3 linked regions of the Homo sapiens genome follow. The protein of the gene in region 1 purifies or fractionates together with the protein of each later gene. This does not show direct contact. Each region holds a gene or a part of one and is shown in the gene's direction. Other genes may lie near its edges.

The links. Proteins that work in one complex are often made in the same cells at the same time.
Region 2: the proteins of EBNA1BP2 (region 1) and NCL purify together in Homo sapiens (affinity purification with mass spectrometry; 3 studies listed by BioGRID and IntAct, with this or other methods). This does not show direct contact.
Region 3: the proteins of EBNA1BP2 (region 1) and NOP56 purify together in Homo sapiens (affinity purification with mass spectrometry; 4 studies listed by BioGRID and IntAct, with this or other methods). This does not show direct contact.

Annotation. Positions count from the first base shown.
Region 1 is NC_000001.11:43,168,741-43,176,673, reverse strand, and holds the start of EBNA1BP2 (probable rRNA-processing protein EBP2), read left to right. Parts: upstream 1-4,394; 5' UTR 4,395-4,532; coding exon of another isoform or gene 4,533-4,555; coding exon 4,556-4,621; intron 4,622-4,704; coding exon 4,705-4,788; intron 4,789-4,961; exon of another isoform or gene 4,962-5,022; coding exon 5,023-5,195; intron 5,196-5,794; coding exon 5,795-5,918; intron 5,919-7,645; coding exon 7,646-7,735; intron 7,736-7,933. Other genes in the region: CFAP57 (cilia- and flagella-associated protein 57), read right to left, coding at 3,764-3,920. UniProt on the Homo sapiens protein: Required for the processing of the 27S pre-rRNA.
Region 2 is NC_000002.12:231,453,936-231,461,484, reverse strand, and holds part of NCL (nucleolin), read left to right. Parts: intron 1-618; coding exon 619-816; intron 817-920; coding exon 921-1,007; intron 1,008-1,042; exon of another isoform or gene 1,043-1,117; intron 1,118-1,191; coding exon 1,192-1,333; intron 1,334-2,359; coding exon 2,360-2,484; intron 2,485-3,095; coding exon 3,096-3,219; intron 3,220-3,684; coding exon 3,685-3,842; intron 3,843-4,360; coding exon 4,361-4,484; intron 4,485-4,720; coding exon 4,721-4,854; intron 4,855-4,961; exon of another isoform or gene 4,962-5,041; intron 5,042-5,348; coding exon 5,349-5,475; intron 5,476-5,548; exon of another isoform or gene 5,549-5,685; intron 5,686-5,860; coding exon 5,861-6,084; intron 6,085-6,217; coding exon 6,218-6,294; 3' UTR 6,295-7,549. UniProt on the Homo sapiens protein: Nucleolin is the major nucleolar protein of growing eukaryotic cells. It is found associated with intranucleolar chromatin and pre-ribosomal particles. It induces chromatin decondensation by binding to histone H1.
Region 3 is NC_000020.11:2,648,331-2,656,180, forward strand, and holds the start of NOP56 (nucleolar protein 56), read left to right. Parts: upstream 1-4,301; 5' UTR 4,302-4,330; coding exon 4,331-4,333; intron 4,334-4,446; exon of another isoform or gene 4,447-4,511; coding exon 4,512-4,601; intron 4,602-4,948; coding exon 4,949-5,063; intron 5,064-5,881; exon of another isoform or gene 5,882-5,956; intron 5,957-6,083; coding exon 6,084-6,245; intron 6,246-6,418; coding exon 6,419-6,617; intron 6,618-6,736; exon of another isoform or gene 6,737-6,868; intron 6,869-6,994; coding exon 6,995-7,182; intron 7,183-7,264; coding exon 7,265-7,416; intron 7,417-7,603; coding exon 7,604-7,704; exon of another isoform or gene 7,705-7,850. UniProt on the Homo sapiens protein: Involved in the early to middle stages of 60S ribosomal subunit biogenesis. Required for the biogenesis of box C/D snoRNAs such U3, U8 and U14 snoRNAs. Part of the small subunit (SSU) processome, first precursor of the small eukaryotic ribosomal subunit.

The DNA of each region.
Region 1 (7,933 bases):
CACTCTCCCCTCTTAGAATGGAAGCACTGTGAGGACAGCATTTTATGTGCATATGTGCGTGTCTATTTTGTGCCTGGAACACAGGGGGTACTTAATACATTTTTGTTGAGTGAACAAATGAATATGTTGAGCCTCATCATGACTCTGAGCTGAACAAGCTGAGCATCATCTGCATCTTACAGATGAGGAGACTGAGGCTCTGTGAGCCTATAAAATGGGGAGCCAGATCAAAGCCAGGTCTCCCAATGTCATGACCTTTATATTTTTCCCTTCACCGGTAATACCCTTAGACTTGGTCAGTGGAGATCCTCCCTTGGGCCTCAAATTTTAGAGCATCCCGGAGTCTTTCTCTGGCTGTACCCCTTACCATTAAGTGGGATACAGTGGCTGCCTGGAGTTTGTCCTGCCTCTTCTAGATCACGTTGCAGGTACCCAGGACTCTGGAGTTCCCTGCTCAGATAGTCTTGAGCCTGCTGACAAGACCAACATTGGGGGTTTCTTCCCAGGCTGTCTCTACTCAACCTGGGCCTGAAGGATGGGCACAGGGTGGTTGCTTATAGAATATATGGGTAGAATTTGAACATATGGGCTGCAAGGATCCACCCACATGTGTACAAGGCCCCTGGTGATATAAGATGGAGTTAGGAGCAGAAGAGAAGTGATACAGTAAGAAGTGTAAGAATATGAGCACAATAACTGAAAGTAAAATCTCAATGGATACATTAAACATTAAGTTAGATGCAGCAGAAAAGAGAAGCAATGAACTACGAGATACATCTAAAGTAATTATCTAGAATGCAACACAGAGAGAGTAAGGTATAAAAAATCCAAATAAGAGTTCAAAAAAAAAAAAACCCAAAAACATGAACGTCAGGTGTGGTGGCTTGCACCTGTAATCCCAGCTACTTGGGAGGCTGAGGTGGGAGGATGAGTTGAGTTCAGGAGTTCAAGACCAGCCTCAGCAACATAGCCAGACCCCATCTCCATAAAAACAATTAGCTGGTCAAGGTGGTGCATGCCTGTATTCCCAGCTATTCAGGAGGTTAAGGTGGGGAGGATGGCTTGAGCCCAGGAGTTTGAGACTGCTGTGAGCTATGATTGTGCCAGTGCACTCCAGCCTGGGCAACAGAGTGAGACCTGGTTTCTTAAAAAATAAATAAATAAAATAAAATAAAATAAAAAACTGGAAGGATGGAGTTGAGATGGTTTGGAGTTCCAGAAGGAGATAACAGAACAAAAAAGATACCTGTCCTTAGATCCAGGAATCTCAAATAATCCCTAGGAGGATAAAAAATGAAAATAAAAACTATACTGATGTGTGTGTCTGTATCTATATGTATGTATATATACTATGTATATATACATGTACATATAGTATATGGTGTGTGTATATATGGTGTGTATTTTATACGTATATATGTATATGGTGTATGTGTATAGATACATACACACACACACCATAGACAGAGAAGATATTAAACATCCAGAAAAAAAGATCATCTACAGAAAGACGATGCTGATAGCTAATTTCTTAACCACAGCAACAAAAGAGAAGCCAAAAAAACACAATGGAATATGATCTATAATATGCTGATAAAAATTTCACACCTGTTGAAACTATCTTTCAGAAATGAGGATAAAATAAAGTCATTTTCAGACAAAAACTGGGAGAATTTATTAATACATTATCAGTAAATGCAGAAGGAAAATGATCCCAGCTGGAATATCTGATTTGTAAAGAGTAATGGTGGGAAAAAGTTTGGTAAGTATGAGAGCAAATATAAATTAATGTTGTCTGTAGAAAACCATAATTTAATTTATATTGGAAAGTCATATGATCTTTTTTATTTTTGTTTTTGAGACAGGGTCTGGCTTGGTTTCCCAGGCTGGAGTGCAGTGGTGCGATCTTGGCTCACCACAACCTCTGCCTCCCGGGTTCAAGCAATTCTCCTGCTTCAGCCTCCCGAGTAGCTGGGACTACAGGCACGTGCCACCACGCCCAGCTGATTTTTGTATTTTTAGTAGAGACGGGGTTTCACTATGTTGGCGAGGATGGTCTTGATCTCTTGACCTCGTGATCTGCCCACCTTGGCCTCCCAAAGTGCTGGAATTACAGGCATGAGCCACCACACCTGGCCAGATGTCCATTTTTATTGCCCCTAATCAACACTGTCTGGAGGTGCTTACCAGCACAGGTAACACAAGAAAAAGGAAGAAAGTCATCGTTATTTGTAGATAACATGATAGTCTATGTAGAAGTCTCTGCATAATCTATAGACAAATCATTAGAATTAATAATAATTTAGCAAATATGCTGGAAATAAACATCAATAAATTAAAGTCAACTGTATTTAATACAGCTTATTCCAACAGAATATTATGTGGTTGATAAATTTGACTTTATTAAAACTAATAATTTTTGTCCATCAAAAGATACTTGTAAGATGGGAGAAAAATGCCCCAAACTGAAAGAAATTATTTGCAAGACATATATATATATCTGACAAATTATTGATATACAGAATATATAAATTGTGCATGTAAATCAATAAAATTGCCCAAAAATATCCTGCACAACAAACTGTAAAAAACAAGTAAAAGACTTGAACAAGGCATTTAACATACGACTAAATAGGAATAGCCCATAAACAGATACTCATCATCATTAATGATAGCAAAATGCAAACGAAAACCACAATTCCTTTTCTCAACCATTGGGTTAGCAAAAAATTACGAAGTTGGACAATACCAAGGGTTGGCAGGGTTGCTGAGGAATAAGAACTCTTATGCACTTCTAGTGGGAGTGTAAATTGGTACTATCATATTGCTCAGTAATTTTAGTCCTGGCTGTGTGCCCTAGAGAATCTGCACAAATAGATGAATGTATATGCATGCAAGAATGTTTATAGTAGTATAGTTTGTAATAGCAAATGATTGTTATTTCCCAAATGTCCCTCAATATTAGAGTGAATACATATATTTGAGACATTATATTCATATGATGGAACACTACATAGCAATAAAATGAACTTGGCTATATGTATCGAGATGTGTGAATCTCAAAAGCATGACATTGAACTGATGCAGCAAGACACAGAATACAGGGAGAAGCACTAGAACTGGTAATATTCTGTTTCCTATGCTGGGTGGCTGGGTTCACAGATCTACATTCTATTGTAATTCTTTAAATATGACATATATGTAGGGTACATTCTTTTGTATGTATATGTCACAATAAAAGGTGTCAATGCAACAAAGAATGGGAAAATGGATTCGGTTGTTGAAATAATGAATATCATTAACAGGACCACTGTGAACAAAAATAAGGGCTGTAATGCTATACAAATGGTTATTTGCGACTTGGGATAAAGTTTACAGTGTCTTCATCATACTTGGATTCAAACGGTGATATAATGAAGGTGGTGTGCTCAGGAAAACTGTTAGACAACTCAAAAAGTGGCTCTGGTGATGACAAAGGCAGTGATATTGAAGACACCAAAAGAGGGGTTCTTAACATATTTTCATGAAATTACAGTGAAAAAAGTACTTTTAAATTAACATTTTATATGTGATTTTAACTACATATGCGTGACTGATTAATCTAGTTTCATAATACAAGTCGCCATTTATTTCCTCTACATTTATAATACTGCATATATATTCAAATTGGCCAAAATCTTTCTTTCCAATCATCATGCTGGGATTATGGGGTTATATGTGGCACATACCATTCCTGTATATGTCAGGATGGAAAAAGTTTTACCTGGAATGAATTTTTGCCATTTCTGATCCACATTGTACTTCACACAGTGATTTCCTGAAGGAAATATAATGATCTGTTCATCGAAGTAGAAGATATTGTTGGCCACGTGGGATCGAAGACCAAAAACATGCAGCGTCTGAGCTACCACGGCTGACATGATCTCCCGCCAAACAGTTCTGCTGAAGACCAAGGCAGCGCTTCAGAGTGGAGAGCACCGCCCCGCTCCGACCCCGCCCCCGGCCCGGACTCGCCCTCCCCGCCCTTTGCTCCTCCCCTTGTCTCTCCCCTTTCTCCTCCCCTTGTCCCTCCCCTTTCCCCTCCCCTTGTCCCTCCCCTTTCCCCTCCCCCGGGGTCCTCCTCCGCGCCACCCCACCCCCGCGGCTCCTTTTTCTGCCTTTTCCTTTGTACCCTCACTGCTACCAGCTCCTTCTGGCGACCCCCAGGTACCCCCTCCCACCTTTCGTTTCTCTCTGGGTCAGCAGACCACGCATGTATCCAGAGGCGCTACCTGTAGGGATCCTAAGCAACCCGGACACTTTCAAACGCCGTAGCGGTTCCTATAGCAACGACAAACCGGAAGTATGGTTTGCCGCCGGAAGCGGAAGTCCCAATCAAAAGTTGAGCAGTAGCTGTGAGTTGCTGGCGCTGGAGCGATTCGGTGGCACGTGGAGCCACGGCGTGGGAGTAGGGGGCTGAAGGCAGGCAGCAGCGGCCAGGGCCGCCCTCTGCTAGCCGCTTGGGTCTCGGGATACCCCGTTTCTTCCTGTAGGTGTGGGACGTGCGTGCGGCGAGATGGACACTCCCCCGCTCTCGGATTCGGAGTCGGAATCCGATGAATCCCTTGTCACAGACAGAGAGGTAGGTGTCAGCCGAGCTCGTGGGGCTGGGCGTGGGAGAGGGGGCCTTACACCCCTGGGAGTGACCGTGATTGTGTCCTGCAGTTGCAGGATGCGTTTTCCCGAGGGCTTCTGAAGCCAGGCCTCAATGTCGTGCTAGAGGGGCCGAAGAAGGCCGTGAACGACGTGGTGAGCGTGGGCACAGGGTCGGGGGTACTCGGACATGGGATGCGCTTCAGGCGCTGTTGGGCTTGGGAGACCGATTCTTGTCCCAGGAAAGATGCACCCTGCGCCTCGCCAAGAGGGTCAATTACCTGTCTGGGTATTGGGGATTAGCACTTTGTCCCTTCGCCTAACAGCCTGTGCTTGGGAAAGACAAACTCAGAGTTCCCTTCTTGTGAGCTCAGTGTCTGGATTTCCTAGAATGGCCTGAAGCAATGTTTGGCAGAATTCAAGCGGGATCTGGAATGGGTTGAAAGGCTCGATGTGACACTGGGTCCGGTACCGGAGATCGGTGGATCTGAGGCGCCAGCACCTCAGAACAAGGACCAGAAAGCTGTTGATCCAGAAGACGACTTCCAGCGAGAGATGAGTTTGTATGTTTGTTTTCAAATGTTGGAGAAGTTGAGGATCCTTGTGCAGGAGAGTGGGAAAGAGGGGAAATTAGTAAGTCTGCACTCAGAATAAGCCTAGGAGTAGAGAGAGCGGCTTCTTTTGACTAAGAATAGCTAGGAGATTCTTCCTGTTTGAGAGAAGAGCTCTTTGGTCCACGGTCACGATCCAAAATCCACTTTATGGGCTAATTTGAAATATTCATGTTAAAACTTTTTGTGCATGCTTCAGTTATTAGGAAAACAAACAAACAAACATTGCTTATGGGATGTTCTTGTGTGGAATTGCTTTAGTAATTACATAAGAATCCATAATCGACATTCGTTTGTGTTAATGGGTACCTTTAGAGTAGTCATTCTCTTAAACTATTTTTAGCAACACCCCTCCCCTTTTTAAAAACTAGTATACGGCTACATTTCTTTTAGATACTAAATCAGTGAGACAGTTTTTGTTTGTTTGTTCTTGCTAATGGAGGTCAGATTTTGAGAGTCCTTCTGAGCTTGGATAACTCATGATTGGCGGTGAAAAGGAACGTAAGGCCTCCTCCTTCACCTCATTACACATTTTGTCCTACGATTCTCAGCTATCGCCAAGCCCAGGCCGCAGTGCTTGCAGTCTTACCCCGCCTCCATCAGCTCAAAGTCCCTACGAAGCGACCCACTGATTATTTTGCGGAAATGGCCAAATCTGATCTGCAGATGCAGAAGGTAAGAAATAGAAGTTTTCCTCTGGAAAGTCAAAACTTTGTACTTAAGCATATTCAGCTGGCTTAGAAAGATAGCTATGAGCCCAATAACGGGGAGCCAGTTGTCAGAGGACAATTATTACCTCTTCCATAGATTGGCTACTTCAGAGTCATGCCAGTTACCACCAATTAGATGCATATAAAAATGACATTTTTTCTAAAATCAGCAATTAAGGAGAGGAACAGTGCTGTGTGAAGTGTGGTCCCCGAGGTGAAGATGGCCCAGTGCATTTCCTAGCTGGCATGGTCATGACATGGTGTGCAGAGAGGACAGCATTCTTGTGCCCTTGCCACTGTCAGTGCTAGAACTTGTAGACAATTACTTTTCTCTGGGCCTCAGTTTTCTCCTCTGTAAAATGAGGGATTCTTAGATGGTTCAGATATAGTACAATTTAGAGTTGGGTAGAACTTGGACCTCATTTAACTTTGGAAGAAGGGATTGCCAGCATGTAATCCAACATACATTCAGCCCTCCATAGCCATGGGTTCAGCATCTGTGGATTCAACCAACCTTGGATCAAAAATATTGGGGAAAAAAATTTGAAAATATTGCAAAAGGAAAACTGAATTTTCCGTGTGCCGAGAACTACATTGAATCCATGAGAATGAGGTGATGCATAGCATTGTATTCGGTATTATAAGTAATCTAGAGACTATTTAAAGAAGCGGTCTGGCACTAGAGACTAGTTTCGTGGATGACAATTTTTTCATGAACTTGGGGAGGGGATAGTTTTGGGATGAAACCGTTCCATCTCAGATCATCAGGCATTAGATTCTCATAAGGAGCAGGCAACCTAGATCCTTTGCATGCATAGTTCCATGCATAGTTCACAGTAGAGTTCGCACTCCTATGAGAATTTAACGCCACCACCAATCTGACAGGAGGTGGAGCTCAGGTGGTAATGCTTGCTTGCCTGTCACTCACTTTCTGCTGTGCGGCCTGGTTCCTAACAGGCCACAGATTCATAGTGGGTTCGTAGCGGTCTGTGGCCTGGGAGTTGAGGTCCTCTGACTTTAAAGGATACTGGAGGCGAGTGTAGGTTATATGCAAATGCTGCACCATTTTTATATAAAGGACTTGAGCATCTGTGGATTTTGATATCTGTAGTGGGTCCTAGAACTAATCCTCTATGGATACTGAGGGATAAGTATATTTAAATAGTACCCTGGGGTCTCAAGCTGGATTTTAGGGAGCTTTTGTCGTGGTAGTAGTTCACCTTCTTACTGTGAACTCTGTACAAATTCTCACTGACAACTTCTCATCCTTTAACTAAAATGTGTATGTTTGACTGAAAAGGCTAGGCACCTGGTATCTGCCTGGGTTTTTATTGTGTATGTGGTATACTAGAAAAGGACACTGAGGCCGCATACTGGTTTCCAGCCTCAGTCTACTGACAGTAGAAATGGGGAGAAGTTTGTCTTCTTTCCTGGGCTACAAATAGGCAGTTTGTATAATGAAACAGACAGCACACTGGGAGCGGGAAGGTGACTTTCAATCTCTGGCTTCACTCTGGCACTTTTGGTAAAGTGCTCAGCCTGTGGGCCCCATTGTCCTCAGGGGTTGGAACTGATGATTTATAAGTTCCGCAGTTTAAAGAACAGGGAATATCTGTTCCCTGCTCTAGCGAATCCTAAGTAGTGGTCATTCCAGATTCAAATGACATGAACTGACAGCATTTTGTGTTGTAGATTCGACAGAAGCTGCAGACTAAACAGGCTGCCATGGAGAGGTCTGAAAAAGCTAAGCAACTGCGAGCACTTAGGAAATACGGGAAGAAGGTGAGAAGAAAAGTGTGCAGGGAACAGGAAGAGGCGGAGTGTGTGTTAGATGAGATTGCCGTGGTCTGACTTGGTCCCCTGAACTGAACGGAACTGTGTGTTGATCATGTATTTACCGTCTCTCAGTGTATGTGCTGGTATTCATGAGCACAATCTTGCCTGGACATGAGTGGTTCCCCAGGAGTAGTATGGTGACTG
Region 2 (7,549 bases), on another chromosome or scaffold:
CTGGGATCAACATATTCCTTCCACGACAACCTGGAGATGAGATTAGAATCCTTGTGGGAATTCTCTGGGTTGTTGTGGTGTGCTAGACTTAATTACCCATGAATGATTTTTGTGCCTCTTGAGAAAATTTCAATAGCACATTCTATTAGTGTTTTTTATAATGTAGGATTTTGTTTCTAAGTGATTTTTTTTTTTTTTAAATTTTTTTGAGATGGAGCTTTTGCTGTTTCCCAGGCTGGAGTGCAATGGCGCGCTATCTCGGCTCACTGCAGCCTCCATCTCCTGGGTTCAAGCAGTTCTGCCTCAGCCTCCCGAGTAGCTGGGATTACAGGTGCCCACCACCACACCCTACTAATTTTTGTATTTTTAGTAGAGACGACATTTCACCATGTTGGCCAGGCTGGTCTCGAACTTTTGACCTCAGGTGATCCACCCACCTTGGTCTCCCAAAGTGCTAGGATTACAGGCGTGAGCCACTGCGCCCGGCCCCAAGTGATCTATTCTTGCCATGACTGTTAACTAAACATGGTGACAGGATTGCATTTTCTTTACATTAGATTTGAAAACCGATGTTGGTTTTGGGAGATTGCTGCAATTTTTAGGTGACTTCTCTTTCAGACTCTGAAGAAGAAGCTATGGAGACTACACCAGCCAAAGGAAAGAAAGCTGCAAAAGTTGTTCCTGTGAAAGCCAAGAACGTGGCTGAGGATGAAGATGAAGAAGAGGATGATGAGGACGAGGATGACGACGACGACGAAGATGATGAAGATGATGATGATGAAGATGATGAGGAGGAGGAAGAAGAGGAGGAGGAAGGTACTTAAATTAGATTCTGACATACGACATGAGTTATGTTTAAAGGAGGCACTTAAGTGTTTGTGGCTACTGATGTGTGATACATTGTTTGACATCTTGTCCAGAGCCTGTCAAAGAAGCACCTGGAAAACGAAAGAAGGAAATGGCCAAACAGAAAGCAGCTCCTGAAGCCAAGAAACAGAAAGTGGAAGGTAACTTGCAGAATTAGGGGATATGGGGGAGATAAACAGCACAAATGATGAATAACAAAGGGACTTAATACTGAAACCTGATGTTACATTGTAGTGTGCTGATGTGCTGTGTATAGAAATTTTGCTTTGGAAACTAACTTTTTACCACACTACAAGTAGACTGAGTTGAGCTTTTTTTGTGCAGGCACAGAACCGACTACGGCTTTCAATCTCTTTGTTGGAAACCTAAACTTTAACAAATCTGCTCCTGAATTAAAAACTGGTATCAGCGATGTTTTTGCTAAAAATGATCTTGCTGTTGTGGATGTCAGAATTGGTATGACTAGGTAAGTGCTTCACTGCACGTTACATACACGTGGGTCTGTTAATGCTTTTCCTTCCCCTGTTAGCACAGTTACTTTAGCCTGCTACTGTTAAACATGAATACTGTAAACATCTTCAAGGATTAGCATTAGTGAACTAAGTTAGAATTAAACTGTAGATCCCCTAAGTTGCAATTTCCATAATCAGTCGTAACTTGGTATAGCACAGAATAATTTTTAGTAAGTTTTTTTGTTGTTTTTGTTATGTATTGAGACGGACGCTGGCTTTTGCTCAGGCTGGAGTACAGTGGCGCAATCTTGGCTCACTGCAACCTCTGCCTCCCGGGTTCAAGCGATTCTCCTGCCTAAGCCTCCCAAGTAGCTGGGATTACGGGTGCACTTCACCATGCCTGGCTAATTTTTGTATTTTTAGTTGAGATGGCATTTCACCATGTTGGTCAGGCTGGTTTTGAACTCCTGACCTCAAGTGATCCACCCACCTCGGCCTCTCGAAGTGCTGGGATTACAGGCGTGAGCCACCCTGCCAGTAAGTTTTAATAATTTGGTGTTAGGTGGGAGAATCGCTTGAACCTGGGAGGCAGAGGTTGCAGTGAGCCAAGTTCGCGCCACTGTACTCCAGCCTGGGCAACAGATTGAGACACCGTCTCAATTTAAAATAATGTTTATTTTCTTGGAAGTACCTGAAACTATTAGACCTGTCTAGTCATCATAGTGAATACTTTTATCCAGACAGGATTCTCCTGTATTAGTGCTTATAGGTGTTCTTTTGTCAGCTGCTACTGTGAATTCTTATAAGCAATTTAGCTCCATGATGAAGACCTCAAACGTGAATGTGCATGTCATATCTTCATGCTGAGACCTTGTTCTGTAGCTGCAGTTTGCAGAGCCTTGACTTTGTTTTGCTAATACTAGGGGTGCTTTTTAAAATGTGATCTTTGTTTGCACCATCACATTTGTCTAGAATACATATTGTGGATTTTGATTTGTGTTTTCACCTGTTGTAATTTTGCCCTCCTCTCCACCTTGAAGGAAATTTGGTTATGTGGATTTTGAATCTGCTGAAGACCTGGAGAAAGCGTTGGAACTCACTGGTTTGAAAGTCTTTGGCAATGAAATTAAACTAGAGAAACCAAAAGGAAAAGACAGTAAGAAAGGTATGTAAGGCTTTATGAGATTATGCAATGAACTCAGGAGCTAGACTGCTAGGGAAAATGCTTTGTAACCCATTTCCCTTGGTTTCCTCTTATTTTTTTAAATCATTTTTTTCCTTTGGTTTCCTCTTAATGTGGGAATTAAATGAGCTACAGTGTTTACAAGAGTACTTGGCACTGCTTGTCAGTGTTATAGTGTAAATTCCTGAGTTAGGCAAGCAAGAGCACTTTTATACAGAACAAGAATTATTAGATGCACCTAAATTAACGTAAAGGGATCTTTCTTCACTGAAACTAGATTAGGTCCCTAATTACTCCCTATATACAGTTGTAATGTTTTGAATTGGTACATTCACTTTTTTTGTTATGCGCGTCTACTCTAGGTTGAACTCCAGTGTACCTAACAGAGAGTTTGACATCAGCTGTGACAACATGGAGGGACCACTTGTGTGTTGACACTGCTATATCTCCATATTTAGCACCGAGCCTTGTACATTATAGGATCTCAAATTATTTGTTGAATAGAGCTATGTGTGTTTTTCCCCTCTTTTTGTTGTTGCCCCCCACCTTTGGTTTTTCAGGCCACAGAGCTCATTTTTGTTTTTTTAATCTAGAGCGAGATGCGAGAACACTTTTGGCTAAAAATCTCCCTTACAAAGTCACTCAGGATGAATTGAAAGAAGTGTTTGAAGATGCTGCGGAGATCAGATTAGTCAGCAAGGATGGGAAAAGTAAAGGGTATGTTCTGTCTATTGAAATGTAAGGGTTTTATTAACATTAATGCACTTTCCTGCTTTATAAAAGAAATATTGGTTTGATTTCCTTAGGCGTGTAATCTTGGACAGTTTAACCTGTAAGTTTGTGCCTCAGTAACCCATCTGTACCATGGGGATAATGTACTCATAGGGTGATTTTAAAAGACAAGCTAATACTTACAAAGAAGCAAGAAATGTGCCTATCTTACAATAAATACTTTGTAAGTAGTAGCAGTTCTTTCAGTGAGGTGAGGTTACTATGAAAAAATTCCAAGTATTTGTAAAACTAGTGGGAAGTAAGAGGGAAGCTCGAGTTTTGATTGAAAAGTGGCATAAAACTAAGGGCATTTATTGTACTCAGATCTGAAGCAAGTTCTGTGTTGCTGAGGTAAAAGCATTTGTGTTAATATGGTTTTAAAAACCATGAGTTCTTCTCCCTCCATTGCAGGATTGCTTATATTGAATTTAAGACAGAAGCTGATGCAGAGAAAACCTTTGAAGAAAAGCAGGGAACAGAGATCGATGGGCGATCTATTTCCCTGTACTATACTGGAGAGAAAGGTCAAAATCAAGACTATAGAGGTGGAAAGAATAGCACTTGGAGTGGTAAGAAATTAGGCTTGTTACAAGGTTTCAGAATTGGTGGAGGGAACTCCTTTGTGTCTTTGTATTTCATAAGTTTATAAATACTTTTTAATCAAAGTTACTCAAATGTAGGTGAAGATCAAGGACATGATACCCCAAGTCATACTCTTATTTGGAATAGTAATTTCCAATCTTGAATGAGAGCTCTAAAATCATTTTGCATTGGAATACAGTAGGCAAATCAAGCTTCCTTTGTAGGCATGTTTTATACTTTAAATGACTTGACCATGTGCGTTTTGAACTCAGATGATTCTAGGAAAACAGACCAGTCATCAGCCTATGTAAGAACAACCAGCAGGACATTGCAACACGTACTAGGTACTTAATATGTTGAGTAACAGAAATGGATTTAGCTTACGTCATGAGTATTTGTATATTAACTCAAGCACTGAAATTCTTAGGAATAAGATATTACTGTTGTGACCGAAGCTGGGAACCACTGTTTCAGAGTCTTAGGAATGTGGCATCTCTATTTGCAGGTGAATCAAAAACTCTGGTTTTAAGCAACCTCTCCTACAGTGCAACAGAAGAAACTCTTCAGGAAGTATTTGAGAAAGCAACTTTTATCAAAGTACCCCAGAACCAAAATGGCAAATCTAAAGGGTAAGATAATACCTTTGTATCATCAGTTATAGGCTATATATGTCTTAGAGGTCTAAAGGAACGTAAGGTCATGTGATCCTGTCAGAAAAGCCAAATAATTTTAGCTACGTAAATGAGTGTAAAATAAAGATCATCATTTAGGTACCAACTTGAGAGAAGGGGCTTGGCAGCATCATGTGACAGTGAAGGAGCATGTGCCTGGTAACTTACTCTAAGCATTAACTGTTCATCCTCAGGTATGCATTTATAGAGTTTGCTTCATTCGAAGACGCTAAAGAAGCTTTAAATTCCTGTAATAAAAGGGAAATTGAGGGCAGAGCAATCAGGCTGGAGTTGCAAGGACCCAGGGGATCACCTAATGCCAGAAGCCGTAAGTTCACCTGGTTAGGGTGCTGTGGTTGGGGGTAGCACTCTCGGTGCTTTGTTTATTTTTTGCACAAATTCTGTGTTTCCTGTTGCTACTGAGTGAACAATAACTGGATATGATGACTGATTACCTGAGAAATAATTGATGAAATCTCAAGAAAATTCCTCTAGATAGTCAAGTTCTGATCCAGCTGTGTCAACTCAGAGTAGCAAGTTTGCCCATGATTTCCTGCCCCATCCACTGGGCCCCACCTGCTTGGGTTGCTTCTCCCACTTTCCATAGAAGATCTGGGGCAGGATATCAACTATGCAATGGCAATTAAAAAATGTAAACCCAGAATAGCCTTTACTTTAATTAAGGACTAGTTGGCTTAGTTGCTTTTAACTGCTTTTTCACTATAACAAGTATTCTTGGCTAGTAGTCATACTAGGCATTGTGCAAATTCAGTGTTACGAACTGTGACTTCACATAAAGTCACATTTTTTTTTCCTTCCCAGAGCCATCCAAAACTCTGTTTGTCAAAGGCCTGTCTGAGGATACCACTGAAGAGACATTAAAGGAGTCATTTGACGGCTCCGTTCGGGCAAGGATAGTTACTGACCGGGAAACTGGGTCCTCCAAAGGGTAAGGGAAGGAAGCGTGAGTGCTGCTTCCACTTGAAGGGGTTTTTGTTCTGTGCAGACCTTGAGTCTAATGTGTCTTCTCATTGAGCTCCTTTCTGTCTATCAGTGGCAGTTTATGGATTCGCACGAGAAGAAGAGAGAATTCACAGAACTAGCATTATTTTACCTTCTGTCTTTACAGAGGTATATTTAGCTGTATTGTGAGACATTCTGGGGTTCAAGCTGTCACACCAGTTAGTTTTCCATAGAGAGCTACTCTGTCACTGGTATCTTTTCCCAAATAAACAAGGCTACTTTCTGTGGGATGGCTCCCCAGCATGTACAGTTAACTTGGGACATGTGTAGTAGGTGCTTTTTATAATGGGCAATTTCATTTGGTGTTCTAGGTTTGGTTTTGTAGACTTCAACAGTGAGGAGGATGCCAAAGCTGCCAAGGAGGCCATGGAAGACGGTGAAATTGATGGAAATAAAGTTACCTTGGACTGGGCCAAACCTAAGGGTGAAGGTGGCTTCGGGGGTCGTGGTGGAGGCAGAGGCGGCTTTGGAGGACGAGGTGGTGGTAGAGGAGGCCGAGGAGGATTTGGTGGCAGAGGCCGGGGAGGCTTTGGAGGTAAGGCACGCAGAGATAATGACACCACATAGCATGTGCTCTTCAGACCCTGTGCCCTGTCACGGTTCCTAATCACTGGGGAGGAGGAGCTTTGTACCCATTCTTTTAACAGTGTCTTGCCTTCCTCCTGTAGGGCGAGGAGGCTTCCGAGGAGGCAGAGGAGGAGGAGGTGACCACAAGCCACAAGGAAAGAAGACGAAGTTTGAATAGCTTCTGTCCCTCTGCTTTCCCTTTTCCATTTGAAAGAAAGGACTCTGGGGTTTTTACTGTTACCTGATCAATGACAGAGCCTTCTGAGGACATTCCAAGACAGTATACAGTCCTGTGGTCTCCTTGGAAATCCGTCTAGTTAACATTTCAAGGGCAATACCGTGTTGGTTTTGACTGGATATTCATATAAACTTTTTAAAGAGTTGAGTGATAGAGCTAACCCTTATCTGTAAGTTTTGAATTTATATTGTTTCATCCCATGTACAAAACCATTTTTTCCTACAAATAGTTTGGGTTTTGTTGTTGTTTCTTTTTTTTGTTTTGTTTTTGTTTTTTTTTTTTTTGCGTTCGTGGGGTTGTAAAAGAAAAGAAAGCAGAATGTTTTATCATGGTTTTTGCTTCAGCGGCTTTAGGACAAATTAAAAGTCAACTCTGGTGCCAGACGTGTTACTTCCTAAAGAGTGTTTCCCCTGGAATGTCACTGGAGAGCATGGCAAAGCCAGCTCTGCCACTTGCTTCACCCATCCCAATGGAAATGGCTTAGTGCGTGTTTCCAGTATCCCAGCCCTAACTAACTTGGTTGAAATGCTGGTGAGGGGACCTGCTCCTGCAGCCCTGGTGCTGACTTGAAGGCTGCTGCAGCTTCTCCTACTTTTAGCAGGTCTGAGGATTATGTCCTGAAGACCACTCTGGAAAGAGGTGCAGGAACAGATTAGTCAGGTTTCCTAGGACAAGGAAGAGCTTCAGGGAAGAGCAGTGGCTAACTCCTGTAATCCCAACACTTGGGGAGGCCGAGGCAGGCAGATCAACTGAGGTCAGGAGTTGAAGACCAGCCTGGCCAACATGGTGAAAGCCCATCTCTACTAAAAATACAAAAATTAGCTGGGCATGGTGGTGTACTCCTGTAGTCCCAGCTACTCAGGAGGCTGAAGCGGGAGAGTCACGTGAACCCGGGAAGCAGAGTGAGCTGAGCACACACTACTATACTCCAGGCTGGGTAACAAAGCGAGACTCCCATCTCCCAAAAAGCAGTTCTGGAATAGAACTCACGCTAGATGGATAGACCAGTGGACACTTTGGAACCTTGGGGCTGGGGAGGAAACTGCCCATCCAGTAAACCCCCAAAAAGCCATTTGTTCTGCACTACGTATATTGCTTATTCTTTCTGGTCTTAAGTACTTGCCTCTCAACCTCCCTTTTTAGTAAAAGACAAGGCCACGTGAGAGGCGGGACTATCAACATTGTGATGAATTTA
Region 3 (7,850 bases), on another chromosome or scaffold:
ACATAATAATCCAATTTAAAAATAGGCAAAAGATCTGAATAGACATTTCTCAAAATAAGATATACAGGCCAGGCATGGTGGCTCATGCCTGTAATCCCATCACTTTAGGAGGCCGCGGCAGGCAGATCACCTGAGGTCAGGAGTTTGAGACCAGGTTGGCCAACATGGTAAACCCCGTCTCTACTAAAAATACAAAAATCAGCAGGGAGCGCTGGCTCACACTTTGGGAGGCTGAGGCAGGCAGATCACAAGGTCAGGAGTTTGAGACCAGCCTGGCCAACATGGTGAAACCTCTCTCTACTAAAAATGCAAAAATTAGCCAGACGTGGTGGCTCACGCCTGTAATCCCAACACTTAGGGAGGCCAAGGCGGGCGGATCACAAGGTCAGGAGATTGAGACCATCCTGGCTAACACGGAGAAACCCCATCTCTACTAAAAATACAAAAAATTAGCCGGATGCGGTGGCGGTCGCCTGTAGTCTCAGCTACTCGGGAGGCTGAGGCAGGAGAATGGCGTGAACCTGGGAGGCGGAGCTTGCAGTGAGCCAAGATTGCGCCACTGCACTCCAGCCTGGGCGACAGGGCGAGACTCCGTCTCAAATAATAATAATAATAATAATAATAATAATAATAATAATAATAAAATAAAATAAAATAAAATAAAAATACAAAAATTAGCCAGGTGTGGTGCCAGACGCCTGTAATCCCAGCTACTCAGAAGGCTGAACCAGGAAGTGGAGCTTGCAGTGAGCCGAGATCACGCCACTGCACTCCAGCCTGGGCAACAGAGCGAGACTCCATCTCAAAAAAAAAAAGAAAAGAAAACGTGGTATGTATACACAATGGAGTACTATTCAGCCATAAAAAATAAGATCCTGGCCAGGCACAGTGGCTCACACCTGTAATCCCGATACTTTGAGAGACCGAGGCAGGTGGATCACCTGAGGTCAGGAGTTCGAGACCAGCCTGGCCAACATGGTAAAACCCCGTCTCTACCAATAATACAAAAATTAGCTGGGTGTGGTGGCACACACCTGTAATCCCAGCATTTGGGGAGGCAGAGGAGAGCAGGATAGCTCAAGCCCAGGAGTTTGAGATCAGCCTGGGCAACATGGCAAAACCCTATCTCTACAAAAAAATTAGTCAGGCATGGGGGTGTACACCAGTAGTCCCAGCTACTTGGGAGGCTGAGGCAGGATGATCACTTGAGCCCAGGAAATCAAGGTTGCAATGAGCAAAGATTGTGCCACTGCATTCCAACCTGGGCTACAGGAGACCCTGTCCCAAAAAAGAAAAAAATGAGGTTTCAGTAGCTTCTATGCAAGGTGATAACTGCAGAGAACTGAGACTCAACTGAAAATAGGTGATAAAACATTTTGTTGTGCTATTTATTAATTAAAGGACAAAAGAGCAAGATGAAAGACCACTAATATTTTTTGAGCTCCCACTACATGCCAGGTACACCATTGTCACACCTGGCCCACAGGAGATCTTCAATAAATGTTTGTTAAAGGGATGAATGAAACCCCAACCTTCATTCTGCAAAGGAAATGAAAGCTCAGGAAGATTCAGTGATTAAGATCACATTGTAAGTACTGGCAGAGCTGGGGCTTGAACCCACGTGAGCTGACCGATTCAAATTTACTGCTGCTTAACAACTCACCCTTACATTTAGTGGCTGAAAACCGCAATGTACTATTTGTCACAATCAGGGTAGACAAGATGCAGATGGTGGTTCTGCTGGTCTTGTTTGGGGCCTTACATGGCTGCACTGAGATGGTGACAGGGGCTGGGACACACAGGATGGCTTCACCCACACGTCTATCTTGGCCATTTGTGGAAACTAACTACCATAGGTGGTATTTCATGACCCTGTAAGCACCCACAAATTGCACCTGGTTGGATATTCTGCCTTAGAAAGATCATTCTGGCAGTAGAAAGTGCCTTGAAGGGGAAACCAAAGGTTTTGTAAAAAGTCTACTTTGGTGGTGAAGACCTGAGCCTAGACAGGAGCAGTGCACCCAGCAAACAGTCCAAGCGGAAGGCAAAGATGGTCTACTCCACCACAGGTTGCAGAGATGCCCCCTGGATAACTGGATAACAGTGTCAAGGATAACAGGAGTCCTGTGTTATCCCACTAGAGTCAGACTACAAGTATCAGGGTGAGATATTTTATTGAAGGGATGGAGATGAGAAAACCGAAGGAAACCTTTTAATGTTCATACCACATCCATATCTGATCACAAGCATTGGTTATCTCACCAGCAGAAGCACTTTTCTTCAGCCATCTCTGTAAGTCAGCAAACTACTTCATGACAGCTCCTTTGTAACCAGAGGACCCAAATTTTTCCAGAGTACGACTGGTTACCTTTTGGCTCATTGATTGACCCTCAGGTTTTTTATATTCTGATTTAACACACAAAAGTGTGTTCATATAGTTACATATATATGTATATATGAAAAATATTTGTGTACATATTTCTATATATGTATGTAGAGCTGAGACAAAAGTTTTACAATGAACAGCACCTTACTCTAAGCAACACACTCTTATTTCTATTCGCTTTAATCCTTTTTCTTTTTTTTTTTTTTTTTTTTTTTTTTGACAGAGCCTTGCTCTGTTGCCCAGGCTAGAGTGCAGCCTCTGCCTCCCGGGTTCAAGCGATTCTCCTTCCTCAGCCTCCCGAGTAGCTGGGATTACAGACATGCTCCACCACGTCCAGCTAATTTTTTTATTTTTTGGTAGAGACGGGGTTTCACCATGTTGGCCAGGCTGGTCTCGAACTCCTGATCTTAAGTGATCCGCCTGCCTCGGCCTCCTAAAGTGCTGGATTATAGCCCACCCAATCCTATTTTTTTAAATGCTGTCCATTAATGCATTCTGACTTCTTGCTTGAAAACCCCTGGTTTAGTGGATAAGCACCTGTAACTCCAGGAAGATTCAGGATTAAGGGCAGAAATAATGAAGTAAATTGAAGTATTAGCATTAGTATTTTCCATTACATTTTGGAATCGTCTATTTTGATGTATTCACGACGGTTAAAATAATTTAACATGCTAATGTATGGATTAACTTGGCAATTCCATTTTAAAATATTAAATGGAATAACGATTCTGACTCGTAAGTAGACATGTGTAACAGAATTCAACCACATCTGTAAACCATATTGAAATTATGAGAGTAAGATTTACCAACCACATTTAGGTTTGACATATTAGATTTGTGAGTGAACTATGTACTTGGATTTTGTCAAGTAACTCAATCGCTTAACAAAATAACAATTAAATGTATAAATGCAGTTTATAGCTATACATTATTTTTAAAAATCCCCTTCGAATGACTCTTTAAAACATACCAGGGGATACGCTACTTAAGTATAACTAGGTTTTGGATTTATAACGTTAATATTAATTATTAAAGCAAAACTCATTTCTAAAGAGTCGCCTGAGTGCCCAAAAGACGCCCTCAAGGACAGGGAAGCAGCTGCGATTCACTCAGCGATCACCAGCGCCCAGAATTCAGGGCCGCCCAAGCGGAGGAGCAACACGTGGCCCAGCAAAAGGAGCTGGGTCCCGTGCAGCACAGCAACAAGAAACTGGCCTAGGAAGACGCTGGAGCGTCTTTCTTTCGCACGTTACTGCCTGCTACAGTCATTTAAAAAAAAAAAACCAAAAACAAAAAAAAGAAATAAATTAATAGTACGAAGAAAACTGCGCGAGCTACATTCCCAGCAGGGTCTGCGCCAGAGCGCGCCAGGCACCGCTCCCGTTACGGGTGGGAGGAAAGGATGCACCGCCCACCCGGCGCCGGGGAGGCTCGTCCCCGAGTAGGGGACGGGAACGCCTGGGTCCCGGGGACGTGGGGCGCAGGGTCTGGGGCCCGAGGCCACGGACGAAGCGGGAAGCCGGCTAGGCAGCGGTCTCTGTCTGGGATGGACGCCGCGCCCCACGCGGACCTCCCGCCCCGACTTCACCCAGCTCTGCTGCCCGTAACTCATATGACAAGAACATCAGGAACCGGACTATTACCCCGAAAGGGCCTTCCCAAGTCGTTTCGCCGCCTGCAGTGCCCGACCGGGGGCCGCGCGTCCCCGGCAACCACGCCCGCCCGCGCAGCTGCAGAGGCCGGAAAAGGCCCGCTCGCCCGCGCTCGGCACCACCCAGCCCGCGCTCCGGGCGATACCACCCTGGGCGGCCCCTCCAAAGGCCGGAGATGGTGTCGTCCCCGGCCTCCGATTGGTCGGGGGGGCGGGGGCGTGGCCTCTGGAGCCTGGTTCCGCGCGCCGGAGCGCGCTAGCCGCATTGCGAGCCGAACCCGGGAGCTGGCGCCATGGTGAGGAGTGGTTGCGGGGCGCGGGCGACGCGACGGTGGGGGTTTCGGCCTGCGTTCGGGCCGCAGACAGGGCCTGGGCCTGGGCCTGGGCCTGCGCCTGCGCCTGCGCCTGCCCTGGGAACGGGTTCCGGCAGACGCTGAGGTTGCGTTGACGCTCGCGCCCCGGCTCCCGTTCCAGGTGCTGTTGCACGTGCTGTTTGAGCACGCGGTCGGCTACGCGCTGCTGGCGCTGAAGGAAGTGGAGGAGATCAGTCTGCTGCAGCCGCAGGTGGGTGAGATCCGTGGGCTCCTTTGGCGGCCCCGCAGACCCTCATCGCGCGGGTCCCAGCATGCACAGCGCGCTCCCACGTGGCCGGCCGAGCGGTTCGGGGCGGGGGGACGGGCCTGGAAAGCTCTAGATCCGGGGGTCTTTACCTTGACCCATGGGTAGAATCGCTCTAGCAATTAGAAATAAGCCTCCCGGACGCCGCCCCCGAACGATTAAAGCAGAAGCTGGGATGTGGGGCCCAGGTATCAGCATATTTTAAGAGCTTCCAAGGCTGAGAACCGCTGCTTGACTGCGCCGCAGAGGCAGGAGGGAGGGAAGGAAACCACTTAGCCTCTTTCTCCCCCCAGGTGGAGGAGTCTGTGCTCAACCTGGGCAAATTCCACAGCATCGTTCGTCTGGTGGCCTTTTGTCCCTTTGCCTCATCCCAGGTTGCCTTGGAAAATGCCAACGCCGTGTCTGAAGGTAAGTCGGCCACCGCCAAGTGTCACAGAGAGATGTGGTTCCTTTCGGTATCCTCTCGGGCAGCTTGTGATAGTATTTGCCGTCCTTGGCTGGCTCTGAGTCTGATAGGCGTGAGGCAGTATTTGAGCCATACAATGTGTAATTTGAAATAATTGTCTTCACAGAGCTCAAGGTCTGGGAACTGTGCTAGACCAAACTGTTTAAGCAGACGATGTGGAATGTGTGTTAACGTTTCCTTGTGGGCACTGTAGTGACAAACTATTTTTTATTTTTATTTTTTTTGAGATGGAGTCTGTCCCCCAGGCTGGAGTGCAGTGGCAAGATCTGGGCTCACTGCAACCTCTGCCTCCCTGGTTCAGGCGATTCTCCTGCCTCAGCCTCCCGAGTAACTGGGATTACAGGCCTGTGCCAGCCACCACACCCGGCTAATTTTGTATTTTTGGTAGAGACGGGGTTTCACCATGTTGGCCAGGCTAGTCTCCATCTCCTGACCTCGTGATCCGCCCGCCTCGACCTCCCAAGGTGCTGAGGTTGCAGGCGCGAGCGACGGTGCCCGGCCGACAAAGGGGGGTTTCTTAAAGGGGGTCGGCTTAACACCTACTTGTGCCTGAGGTTTTGCCTAAACACAATCAAGTGTCTGGTTCTCTGCTTTCTGTTCGATTGGAAAGGGCAGTTGGGTAAACACAGGCTGAGAAAAAAAGGTTTGGTTCCAGAAGGCAAATTCTACGAAATACTCGAGGGTGTGTTACAAGCTATTATTTATTGCCCACTTGTGCTATCAGACCTGAATGCAGTTGTTCCCATGGCTGGGCCAGGCTTTGCAGTGATGACTTGCGAATCAAATCTGTCAATCCCCTGAGTGCAATCACTGATGTCTCCATGTCTCTGAGCAATGCCTGATGGGGAGGGATCTAGGTATGCCATCCCAGCGTGCTCGGTGGGACCAGGGTAGTCAGCTGAGGGATGTTAGAGTTGATCGTCCTTCAGCCTGTTAGTGGGAACTGTGTTCTTTCCCCTGAGGGGTTGTTCATGAGGACCTCCGCCTGCTCTTGGAGACCCACCTGCCGTCCAAAAAGAAGAAAGTACTCTTGGGAGTTGGGGATCCCAAGATTGGTGCCGCAATACAGGAGGAGTTAGGGTACAACTGCCAGACTGGAGGAGTCATAGCTGAGATCCTGCGAGGTGAGACCATCATCTGTTATATTCCTGTTATCCTGGACATTTTGGGGGAGGAGGTTCTGGAAACTTGGTTGCTTGTTGTGATTTCTGGGAAGGCCTTCAGGCTGGGCTGGTGCCCGTGGGTGCGGGAGCTAGCTCAGAGCCCCTTGTTGCTCACCGTCTTGCCCTCTTCTTAGGAGTTCGTCTGCACTTCCACAATCTGGTGAAGGGTCTGACCGATCTGTCAGCTTGTAAAGCACAGCTGGGGCTGGGACACAGCTATTCCCGTGCCAAAGTTAAGTTTAATGTGAACCGGGTGGACAATATGATCATCCAGTCCATTAGCCTCCTGGACCAGCTGGATAAGGACATCAATACCTTCTCTATGCGTGTCAGGTAAAGTGCAGGGGCCACCCATAATACTGGAGCCTTTGGTCTGTAGTTCAGTTAATTTTGAGTCTTGATGAGGACTGACCATCCTGTGGGTAGAACCATGTGGGCTGGGGCTGGGTGTAGGCCTCCTGGTGCTTACCACAGGCTGTGTTCTTACACTGACTGTATAGAAAGAGGAGGTAGAGTAAACCTACCCCATATACACCTCAGCTCAGGCCCTGTGCCTGGTCTGTATTGTGAATGGGGGAACATAGAATTGAGGAAGATTTGGATCTTTGTCCCATTTCCTCCAGGCAGAGTAGGTGTGGAGAAGGCAAGGCTGTAGCTCTATGGTTTTTGATGAAGCAGCTGGGCCAGGGAGTGACTGTGGCTCTTTGCAGGGAGTGGTACGGGTATCACTTTCCGGAGCTGGTGAAGATCATCAACGACAATGCCACATACTGCCGTCTTGCCCAGTTTATTGGAAACCGAAGGGAACTGAATGAGGACAAGCTGGAGAAGCTGGAGGAGCTGACAATGGATGGGGCCAAGGCTAAGGCTATTCTGGATGCCTCACGGTCCTCCATGGGTCAGTGCAGAGCCTGGCAACCTGCATAAGGTATGGGGCTCTAAATAGCTGGCCTCTTGCATTCACACTTGGTTTTTCCTAGGCATGGACATATCTGCCATTGACTTGATAAACATCGAGAGCTTCTCCAGTCGTGTGGTGTCTTTATCTGAATACCGCCAGAGCCTACACACTTACCTGCGCTCCAAGATGAGCCAAGTAGCCCCCAGCCTGTCAGCCCTAATTGGGGAAGCGGTGCGTCACAGGGGACTCAAAAATGGGAGAATAAGGACTGTTGCCATGTGCACCTGCACTGCTGTATTTCGTGACCCACCATGTCTTCCCTAGTTGTGCTTGATGGGGAGGTGGGGAGCAGGGCTGTCGTGCAACTGGGCAGGTCAGCAGTTCATTTCTCTGACTGCTTCCTTGACTCTCTCTCCAGGTAGGTGCACGTCTCATCGCACATGCTGGCAGCCTCACCAACCTGGCCAAGTATCCAGCATCCACAGTGCAGATCCTTGGGGCTGAAAAGGCCCTGTTCAGGTACCAGTGAGGGCACCTGCCCACAATCAGGTGCCACTTCTGGTGCCCACTGCTTGTTGGGGGATCACGGTGATGGCTGACCAGGGCTCCCTGACCTATACAGGCCTCTGCTATGGGGGTGATGGCCAGTCCTGGTGTCTGAGTGA